Linked DNA regions of Homo sapiens: region 2 is linked to region 1. Evidence: fine-mapped expression QTL. A gene starts in region 1. The other region holds a variant in brackets. All regions are shown on one strand. Distances are between the middles of the regions. Region 1 holds the start of TMEM167B (transmembrane protein 167B). Region 2 overlaps ELAPOR1 (endosome-lysosome associated apoptosis and autophagy regulator 1).

What was found. PIP is the estimated chance that this variant, and not a neighbour inherited with it, causes the effect.
Region 2: its variant is the best candidate, but not a certain one, in a credible set for the expression of TMEM167B in whole blood (GTEx, PIP 0.54).

Annotation. Positions count from the first base shown.
Region 1 is chr1:109,088,025-109,093,398 of GRCh38, forward strand. It overlaps TMEM167B (transmembrane protein 167B), which reads left to right and starts at 2,740. Exons shown (of 3, transcript NM_020141.4): 1 at 2,740-2,858; 2 at 4,866-4,997. The coding sequence starts at 2,849. It also overlaps the pseudogene NDUFB3P1. RefSeq lists an enhancer at 2,374-2,573.
Region 2 is chr1:109,118,273-109,123,646 of GRCh38, forward strand. All of the region lies in intron 1 of ELAPOR1 (endosome-lysosome associated apoptosis and autophagy regulator 1), which reads left to right. Among named protein-coding and RNA genes, the nearest start is that of ELAPOR1, 6.8 kb to the left of the region's middle. The variant C/T (reference allele first, on the strand shown) is at 2,785.

The sequences.
Region 1 (5,374 bases):
GTGGAAAATACTATTGGAAGGCCTTGAGTAGCAGGCTAAGGACTTAGGCATTATTCAGTAGGTAGTGGTTGCTGTCAAAGGAAACACCAGTGTGGTATGGAGGAAAATTTTCTAGTCCTGATTTCAGAAGGCTGGAATTATTGTGCCAGTGTAATACTTGGCAGTCCTTACCCTAAACCTTGGTTTATTTCTAAAACAGGGGTAATCAGGCAGTTGTGAGGGTTAAATAAGATCATATGACAAGGTGTGTTTGCTTTGAAAATGTCAAAATGTTATAAAAATGTAAGTTTTCATTGTTGTGAGGACATAATTGATACTTAAAGACTACCGATATAGCAAAATTACTAAGGTGATGGCTGTAGGATTACAAGAGGGGCAATTTTTTTTCTTTTCTTTGTTTTTTTTGAGACGTAGTTTCACTGTTGCCCAGGCTAGCGTGCTATGGCAGGATCTCAGCTCACCGCAACCTCTGCCTCCCCAGTTCAAGCGATTCTCCTGCCTCAGCCTCCCAAGTAGCTGGGATTACAGGCATGTGCCACCATGCCCGGCTACTTTTGTATTTTTAGTAGAGACGGGGTTTCTCCATGTTGGTCAGGCTGGTCTCGAACTCCCGACCTCAGGTGATCCGCCCACCTCGGCCTCCCAAAGTGCTGGAATTACAGGCGTGAGCAACCGCGCCCGGCCAAAGGGGGGCAGTTATTATTATTATTATTATTATTTGAAATGGAGTCTCGCTCTGTCGCCCAGGCTGGAGGGCAGTGGTGCTGTCTCGGCTCACTGCAACCTCTCCCTCCCGGGTTCAAGCTATTCTCCTGCCTCTGCCTTCCGAGTAGCTGGGATTACAGGCGCACGCCACCATGCCAGGCTAATTTCTGTATTTCTTTTTTTCTTTTTTCTTTTTTTTTTTTTAAGTAGAGACGGGGTTTCACCATGTGGTCAGGGTGGTCTTGAACTCCTGACCTCAGGTAATCCGCCTGCCTCGGCCTCCCAAAGTGCTGGGATTACAGGCGTGAGCCGCGCCCGGCCAGCTGCTGCTGTTTTAGACAATGGTTGATGAAGGATTCGAAGGCCTAAACAATAGAGCTTTTGTTCTGTTTTGTTTTTGAGTGGTCCTGAACAGTTCTTTTGGGCAGGGGAATTTGTCTGTGTGTGAATGTGCAAACATATATATAATCTGAGTGGCTGCCTGGCCTTGTCCTAGGTTTTGTCCCGTATATACGCCGTCTTTTTTTTTTTTTCTTTCTGCATGTATGTATATTTTCTCAAGGCATCTGTCCTGCACTAGACTTTGGCTTGTCTTTCCAGGCCAGCTTCCAGAGGATGCTTTGGCAGTTTTCCCTCTGGGTAACCAAGCAGGCTGCAGCCAGCAGATGGCACTGCAGCAGAAAGGGGCAGAGTCCCTTTAGGCCCTTGACAAGCACGGCGGATTAGTAACCGTATAATTTAACCCTCCAGTTAGCCTTGGAGGACTCGGTGTCGCACTTCCGCCCGAACTCTAATAAAGCGGGCCGAGTTGTGTGCAATTAAGGATTTCAGTATGCAAATCTGAATCTGTACTTTTGTCTCCTCCACCCCACCCCCATCATTAGACTGGCAATGTCTTTTGTCACGTTGTCAAAGTGTCCTCAGAGAAGCGGTGTCTAGATATCGCCGATTTCTGGTTAAAGTGGCTGAAGTGATCCCAGCATTAATTAAATGCAGGAGAATCGAGATTCTCCTGATAGTTTAAGGAAAAGAAAAATTCACACAAGCAAACGGGCAACCCTTTGAATGTTTTCCGACGACGTGGTGCTTTAGGATCTGAAAGATGCGACTTGGTTTTTGTTGTTGTTGTTGTTGTTGTTGTTGTTTTTGAGACGGAGTTTCCGCTCTTGTTGCCCAGGCTGGAGTGCAATGGCGCGATCTCGGCTCACCGCAACCTCCGCCTCCCAGGTTCAAGCGATTCTCCTGCCTCGGCCTCCCGAGTAGCTGGGATTACATTACAGGCATGAGCCACCATGCCCGGCTAATTTTGTATTTGTAGTAGAGACGGGGTTTCTCCATGTTGGTCAGGCTGGTCTCGAACTACGATCTCAGGTGATCCGCCTGCCTCGGCCTCCTAAAGTGCTTAGATTACAGGCATGAGCCACCGCGCCCGGCTAATTTTGTATGTTTAGTAGAGACGGGGTTTCTCCTTGTTGGTCAGGCTGGTCTCGAACTCCGACCTCAGGTGATCCGCCTGGCTCGGCCTCCCAAAGTGCTGGGATTACAGGCGTGAACCACCGCGCCCGGCCGCGACTTGTTTTTGTTACAAGGTTCCTCATTTCATTTGCAACGTTCAGACGCAGTCTGACTAGATTTCCATCCGGAGTAAGGAAGAGCAGCTCAAGGGCAGTCACGGAGGCCGCAGGTGCGGCTTCTTCACCCGCGGTGCTGGAGTTCTCTCAAGTGGAAGCCCAGGACGATGAAAACCTCATAGGTAGGCTGCTGCTTACACACAGCAGCCGCCACGGCGCAAAATAAACTACAAAACTACAAGCCTTTACCTTTTCAAACACACTGACGCGGGCCAGCCCCAGCCCTACGCCCGCAGGGGCACGCAGAAAAGACTTAGTTACCACGGCCAAGTACGAAGCCTTCGAGATAGCGTTCTTCTTACCCTACGTAAACACGCAGTTTCCCGAGCTCGACAATCGGCTAGCCACTCCTGATAGCGTTCGGCGCTCGCCTCTCGGCCCTTGCTCCTGCGTACTACGGCTTCTTCCAGTCACCTCGGCCCGGATCGGGAAGTGTCAAGCGGGCGCTCCCCCATCTCCGCCGCTATTACCACTGAACCCGGACCCCCTACCCAGGTCCAGGGCCAGCCGCCATGACGAACGGTGAGAACTGATGCCCTGAGCGGAGGGTGGGAGTGAAGGACGAAGGGAAAACGTGGCGGGCGGGGCCGGGACTGACGTGGCCGTTCTCCCCGCCCCCTCCCAGCCCGGCCCCCCTTGGCCTCTCGACGCCCCTAACTTCTGTACCCCTATACTCCTCTACGGGTTCCCCCTTCCCATATTCATCTAGGACCCCCAGTGCCTCTTATGCTCACACCTCGAGTTATCTATCCCTATGCTTTGCTTTCCCTTTTCTTTTTCTTAGTTCTTTCTGGCCCTTGGAGAGGTCAGTCCCAGAGGTACTACTGCTATTTAAACCCGGGGAAGAGAGAGGCTCCTCCTCCCAGCTCCCTGCGTTCTCATGCTTTCGGACCGTAGTTTTGTTGAGAGGGCCAATAAATGACATAGAATATCAAGTCCCACACTTTTGGGGTTGCTGGTGAATGTAGACCCCACAAAAGCTTCTTCTTACGGAAAAATACCGGAAAGATTTCTGATTTTAAAGTCCTGGCGGGGTGATCCCACGTGGAGACCCTGACTAGTGTTGCAAAGGGTGGATTTAGACACTGCCTCTTCTAGATGATGAGGCAGTTTATCTGACCTAATTTTCCAGGCCTCTTCAAACACTTTATGAATTCTGAATTCCAGAGGAGGACAGGAAGGAGGGCCTTCATGATTTTTAGTGTCAACCTTACAGGAAAGGAGAAGAGAAAGCCTTTTAGGCATTACGATGATTTGAGGGGCTCCGGAAAGCATTTCTCAAAAGTACTTTGTCCATAGACCTGGCACTGAAGACTCGAATTTAACCTCCTTGTGAATTTTGGCATTGTCTGCAGAAACTTATGAGAGAAAAGGGGTAGCACGTGAAGGTATAGTTCCTCAGAAAACCTTAGTGTATGTATTAATTTGCTGGACCCTTTCTTAGTGACAGCTTAGCTGTGAGACAGTTTTACTGGAGGAAGAGAGGTAGTGTGATCTAGAACTGGCAGACACTGGTTATATATAATATTCATTTGGAGCTTCCTGGGAAGTCAGAGGTCTCAGGATACTAGGCACAGTAAGAAAAGGGAATTTACCCAGAGGAAGACAGAATCTGAACCAGGAAGTAAGACAGCAGTTTGACACGGTAGTTGCTGAATAAATTTTAGTCATTCTTCCCCCATTTTGTGGTCCAATATCTTCTTGTTTTTTGCAATTAGGTGATTCATTGTGCTTCCCTGTACAAGAAATAAGCTTGGTTTATGTATTTAAGAAACAGAGCTAAGAAGTTAAAGCTTTCTATGTTGAAGCCTTAGATACTTTTTCTTTGTTTTAGAAAAATCTGTTATTATTCTGGCAGAAATTCGGTTTGTTAAGAGTATCATCCATAAAGTGTAAGATAATGATAGGAAAATTGTAGTCATGTGGATTCTTACTCTTGCAACTTTCATTAAGCTTAATTTTTTGCCTTAACATATTCTTCACCAACAGTTGCACATCTGACAGTTTTGGCTACATATCTAGCTCTCCTTTATCATATGAGTGATTTATAACAAGAACATGTTAAATTCTCTGTGCTGAGTCTCTAAGGATTCATATGTCTCAATCTATTGCCAACACTAGTCATTCCTGGGATGCTAATTTCTGCCCAGGATTTCTACTTCTTGAAAGGTGAGGGGAAGGACCAGTGACATTTTAGTAAAGGGGATGTAAAAAAAAAAATTTTTTTTTGAGTTGGGGTCTCACTCTGTTGCTCAGGCTACAGTGCAGTGGCATGATCGTAGTTCATTGCAGCCTCGAACTCCTGGGCTCAATTGATCCCCCTTCCTCCTACAAGCAATTTTTGGGAACAGTAAAATAATCGTGTTAGTCCCAGGATCCTGGCTCCCCCTTGTCAAGTGTCAGTACTGCCTGTTGAGGTTATTATTTTGTTATTATGTCACACACTATCTTCCTTAGAGTTCTCAGGCGGGATCACAGGTCCGACGCTAGATCAGTACCTAAGGTTTTCTTTTCTTCTTTATTTAACAGTGTACTCCTTGGATGGGATTCTGGTGTTTGGTTTGCTCTTTGTTTGCACCTGTGCCTACTTCAAGAAAGTACCTCGTCTCAAAACCTGGCTGCTATCAGAGAAGAAGGGTGTTTGGGGTGTGTTTTACAAAGGTGAGGCCATGTCTGGACAGGGAGAAGAGACTGCCATCTCTGGACAGTGTGGAGCTACAAAGTAGGGAGTACAGTGAGCTGGGATTATATTTGGTTTCATTTTTAGAAAAAAATCCCTCCGATTGGGTCTGAGAGTCTGGAAAATTAATCATTCTCCAAAGTTGAGGGAAGAGGTAAAAGTTAAAATTTGCTGGGTGTGATGGCTCATGCCTATAATCTCAGCACTTTGGGGGGCCAAGGCAGGAGGATTGCTTGTGTCCAGGAGTTGTAGATCAGCCCGGGCAACACAGTGAGACCCCATTTCTACAAAATATACAAAAATTAGCCAGGTATGGTGGCACGTGCCTGTAGTCCCAGTTACTCAGGAGACTGAGGTG
Region 2 (5,374 bases), 30 kb after region 1:
GGTCCACATGTGGAAAATGCAAATGATCCTGGGACTTGCAAGCAGACCAGCTGGCTGAAATGTGCAATAGTGTGAGATACAAAGTTGATAAGGTTGAAAAATTCTAAACTAAGTGGAGAATCCCTGAAGGATTTCTGGCAGAGATAGCAGCCTAAGCAGAATGGATTAGCATGAATATAAAGTAAGCATGGTTGAGGTGGGCCAACAGATGAGAGCAGAGAGATGAGGCAAGGAGACCAATACTGAAGATATTACTGAAGTCAAGGAGGAGGTTAATAAAGGGACTGCACTGGGATGGGGGCAGTGGAATACATGGAAAGGCGTCTGTGTGAAAAACATGCTGACGGTGGAGGTTAGAGGATTTGGCAACTGATTGATGGTGTAGGGTGATGGTGACGGGCGGGTCAAGGATTTTTGTAAGGATTTTGGAGTGGGAGAATGGTAGGAGTTACTATCCAAAATGCAGAAAGAACAGCTTTAGGGAGCAGAGTGTTCCCTGTTCTTAGTTCTGATGTCCCTGGGATCAGCCCCTGTAGTCAGGGGAGAAAGTCCTGAGCCTTTGGCACGCTACTTCACTTTGTGAGCACAGTGTCTAGGCTTTTCTGTTTCCTCCTGTATTTGGTTCTTCTTTTTTTTTTTTTTTGAGACGGAGTCTCGCTCTGATGCCCAGGCTGAAGCACAATGGTGTGATCTCTGCTCACTGCAACCTCCGCCTTCTGGGCTCAAGCAATTCTCCTGCCTCAGCCTCCCAAGTAGCTGGGATTACAGGTGCCCGCCACCATGCCCAGCTAATTTTGTATTTTTATTAGAGATGGGATTTCATCATGTTGGCCAGGCTGGTCTTGAACTCCTGACCTCAGGCGATCTGCCCGCCTCGGCCTCCCAAAGTGCTGGCATTACAGGAGTGAGCCACCACACCTGGCCTAATTTTTTTTTTTTTTTGAGACAAGATCTGGCTCTACTCTGAAGGCTGGAATGTGGTGGTGCCATCTCAGCTCACTGCAACCTCCCCCTCCCAGGCTCAAGCCATCCTCCCATCTCAGTTGGGATTACAGGTGTGCACCACCATGCCCTGATAATTTTTGTAGTTTTGGAGAGACAGGGTTTCTCCATGTTGCCCAGGCTGGTCTCAAACTCGTGAGCTCTAGTGATCTGCCTGCCTCGGCCTCCCAAATTGCTGGAATTACAGGTGTGAGCCACCGCACTCAGCCTGCTTTTTTTTTTTTTTTCACATGTATGTCTCTCTAAACAATCTTATTTAGATCTGTTTATTTTTGACCTTTGTAAAAATATATTGCATTGTATATAGAGTTATAACATTTGCTTTTCTAACTCAACACTAAGCTTCTAAACTCATCTACGTTATTGTATGTTACTATATTTTGTGCATTTTCGGTGTTGTAAAATACTCCTTTGGTGAATATTCCACGATTTAAAAATTAGTTTTCCTGTTAATAGACATTTGGGTTTCCATTGTTTTGCTATTTCAAACAATGCTGCTATGGACATTTTTGAACCTGTCTTCTGGTGTGCAGGTACACGTTTCTTGAAGGTATAAGCCTAGGAGTGGGGTGCTGGGTTGTGGGTTGTGTATAGATTCATCTTTACAGGAGAATGCCAAATTGTTTTCTGAAGTGAGTGAATTAATCATAATTTATTCTTCAGTGACTCCAGAGATTGGGATTCTATTAAGGACCTTAGTCACCACTATGGTCTGATGTTTGTGTCCCCCCTAAATTCATACATTGATACCTAATCCTCAATGCAATGGTATTAAGAGGTGGGGCCTTTGGGAGGTGATTATATCCTATGGGATTAGTGCACTTATAAAAGAGGCCTGAGGGGCTGGGCACCATGGCTCATGCCTGTAATCCCAGCATTTTGGGAGGCCGAGGCAGGCTGATCGCTTGAGGCCAGGAGTTCAAGACCAGCCTGGCCAACATGTTGAAACCCTGTCTCTACAAAAAATGCAAAACCTAGCTGGTGTGGTGGTGCATGCCTGTAATTCCAGCTACTTGGGAGGCTGAGACACGAGAATTGCTTGAACCCAGGAGGCAGAGGTTGCAGCAAGCCAAGATCACGCCACTGTACTCCAGCCTGCGTGACAGAGCAAGACTCTGTCTTAAAATAAAATAAAATAAAATAAAATAAAATAAATACAAGAGGCCTGTATTTTTGCCCCCTCCACTATATGAGGACACGTAGACAGCACCATCTCTGAGGAATGGGCCCTCACCGGACGCCTAATCTGCTGGTGCCTTGATCTTGGACTTCCCAGCCTCCAGAGCTGTGAGCAATCAATATCCATTGTTTATAAATTACCTAGTCTATGGTATTTTGTTATAGCAGACCAAACAGACTAGGCAGTCACTTTAGCCCCAGACATACCAAGTTAGGGCTTAACTGTGGGGACACTCTCTCTTCACAAGTAATGCTGTTTCTTCAGAGCTCTTGGGGGTCGTGTTTACCTAGACTTTTACAGCTTTCTTCAGTTTTCAGTTTTGTAATCTGATGTGTCGCAGGTGGGATGAGTTTTCTTCTATTTTGGAAACTGGACAGATGAATTCTCATTCAGATCACTCACTAAATAGAGTCCAGGTGAAAGCAACTTCTAGGGCCAGGCTTCTGGAAATTAGTAGCATCTTAAGGTGTCAAGGTAGGTAACATCTTAGGGTAAAACAGAAATGTCACTCAATAAGAGCTATCTACTGCTCTCTATTCTATCTGAGAGGAGTCTTAGCTATTGTAACGTCTTTCAGGGAAGTGCCCTGTGGGCAAAAATAA[C/T]GCTTCGTATCCAGATTTGGTACAGTTTACAAAATTTTGAAATTTTTGGTACTTTTTTGGTCCCTTTTTGCATTCTGTATTTCTTGAATTTTTTTTCAATTTTTTTTGAGATGGAGTTTCCTTCTTGTTGTCCAGGCTGGAGTCCAGTGGCGTGATCTCGGCTCACTGCAACCTCCGCCTCCCAGGTTCAAGGGATTCTCCTGCCTCAGCCTCCCAAGTAGCTGGGATTACAGGCATCTGCCATCACTCCCGGCTAATTTTTGTATTTTTAGTAGAGATGGTGTTTCACCATGTTGGCTACACTGGTCTCGAACTCTTGACCTCGGGTGATCCACCCCCCTCAGCCTCCCAAAGTGCGTGAGCCACTGTGCCTAGCTTTTGAATTATTACATTAAGAAAGTATCATTGTTATAAAAGCAATAAGGTTATTTTAAAATAGTATTCAATAGGCCAAAAGGGAATATGGAAGTAACAGCCTTGAACTCGTGGCCTCAAAGGATTCTCCTGCCTCAGTCACACTTTAGAGTTTCCCTTTACATTCAGGATGAATCCTGAAAAGAGGGGTAATGCTGCCTTAGACACTGGAGGGACTAAACTCTGACAAAAGAACATTACCAAGAACTATCTAGCCTTGTGAAATTTAGACAATTTCTGCAAATATGGATCTTTCATACTCCAGTGGCCCAATAATGGAGGTCTTCTTTGCCTGTGTATTACTTTTTTTTTTTTTTTTTTGAGACAGAGTCTCTCTCTGTCACCCAGGCTGGAGTGCAGTGGCATGATCTCAGCTCACTGCAACCTCTGCTTCCCGGGTTCAAGCAATTCTCCTGCCTCAGCCTCCTGAGTAGCTGGGATTACAGGCACCCGTCACCACGCCCGGCTCATTTTTGTATTTTGGGTAGAGACAGGGTTACATCATATTGGCTAGGCTGATCTCAAACTCCTGACCTTGTGATCCGCCCACCTTGGCCTCCCAAAGTGCTGGGATTACAGGCATGAGCCACCACAGCTGGCTCTTTTTTTTTTTTTTTGAGACAGAGTCTTGCTCTGTCACTCAGGCCAGAGTACAGCGGTGCAATCTCAGCTCACTGCAGCCTGTGCCTGTCGGGTTCAAGCGATTCCCATGCCTCATCCTCCCGAATAGCTGGGATTACAAGCGTGCACCACCACACTCTGCCATGTTGGCCAGGCTGGTTGGTGTTGAACTCCCAACCTCAAGTGATCTACCTGCCTCCGCCTCTCAAAGTGCTGGGATTACAGGCGTGAGCCACTGTGCCCAGCTTCAGATAACCTTTCCATTAAAAAAAAAAAAAAAAAAAAGGCAGGATGTAGTGGCTCGTCCCGGTAATCCCAGTACTTTGGGAGGCCATGGCCAGCAGATTGCTTGAGCCCAGGAGTTCAGGACCAGCCTGGGCAACATAGCAAGACCCCAACTTTACAAAACAGTTTTAAAAATTAGCTATGTGTGGTGGCCCACGCCTGTAGACCCAGACACTAGGGAGACTGAGGTGGGAGGTTCACTTGAACCCATGAGTTAAAGATTACAGTGAGCCGTGATCAAGCCACTACTCTCCAGCATGGGCAACACAGTGGGACTCTCTCTTTAAAAAAAAAAAGAGACTGGGTGCAGTGGCTGACACCTGTAATCCCAGCACTTTGGGAGGCCAAGGTGGGCAGATCACTTGAGCTCAGGGGTTTGAGACCAGCCTGGGCAACATGGTGAAACCCCATCTCTACTAAAAATACAAAAATTAGCTGGGCATGATGGTGTGCCCCTGTGGTCCCAGCTACTTGGGAGGCTAAGGTAGGAGGACCATTTGAACCCAGGAGGTTGAGGTTGCAGTGAGCCATGATGGCACCAGAGTAAGACCCTGTCTCACAAAAAAGGTAGGGGGATCTGTATTAGTTAGCTTTTGCTGTATAACAATCCACCCTGAGGCTTATTGTCTTAAACAGGACCCCTTGTTTAGCCCACAATCCTGTAGTTTGACTGGGCTAGGGCAGCGTGGCTGATCTATGCTGGGCTCCCTTGTGTGACTGGTCAGCTGGTAGATTGACTGCAAGCCAGATTACCTAAAATGCTTCACCCAGAGGTCTGACATTGACAGGCTGTTGGGAGCCCCTGCAAAGTCATTATGTAGGGGCATACATATGGGGGATGGGAAGAATATGTTGCCATTTTTGAAGCATACCACTAGGAAAAGCAGAGTTGATACAAATAACCAACCACTCCAATGGACCTATAGTTATAAATGTGGCTAATTACTAGGAAAGAAAAGTAAAGGATATGAGAGATTATTACAAAGATACCTACTTTACAGTATGCCACAAGATCTTTTATATACTTTCAGCATCTTTCTATAAAGACGACATATGAATATTTTTAATCACCGTATCTGTTGGTATAGATCACTGCTTTGGGAATGCAGCAAGAAAACTACAGCACCATAGTCAAATTGCATAGTCAAGGAAAAGCATACAAAGTGTTGATTTGAATGAGATGAACTTTAAATTTCTCTATTCCCTTTTGGCTTATTGAATACTATTTTAAAATAATCTTATTGTTTTTGCAACAATTATACTCTCTTAT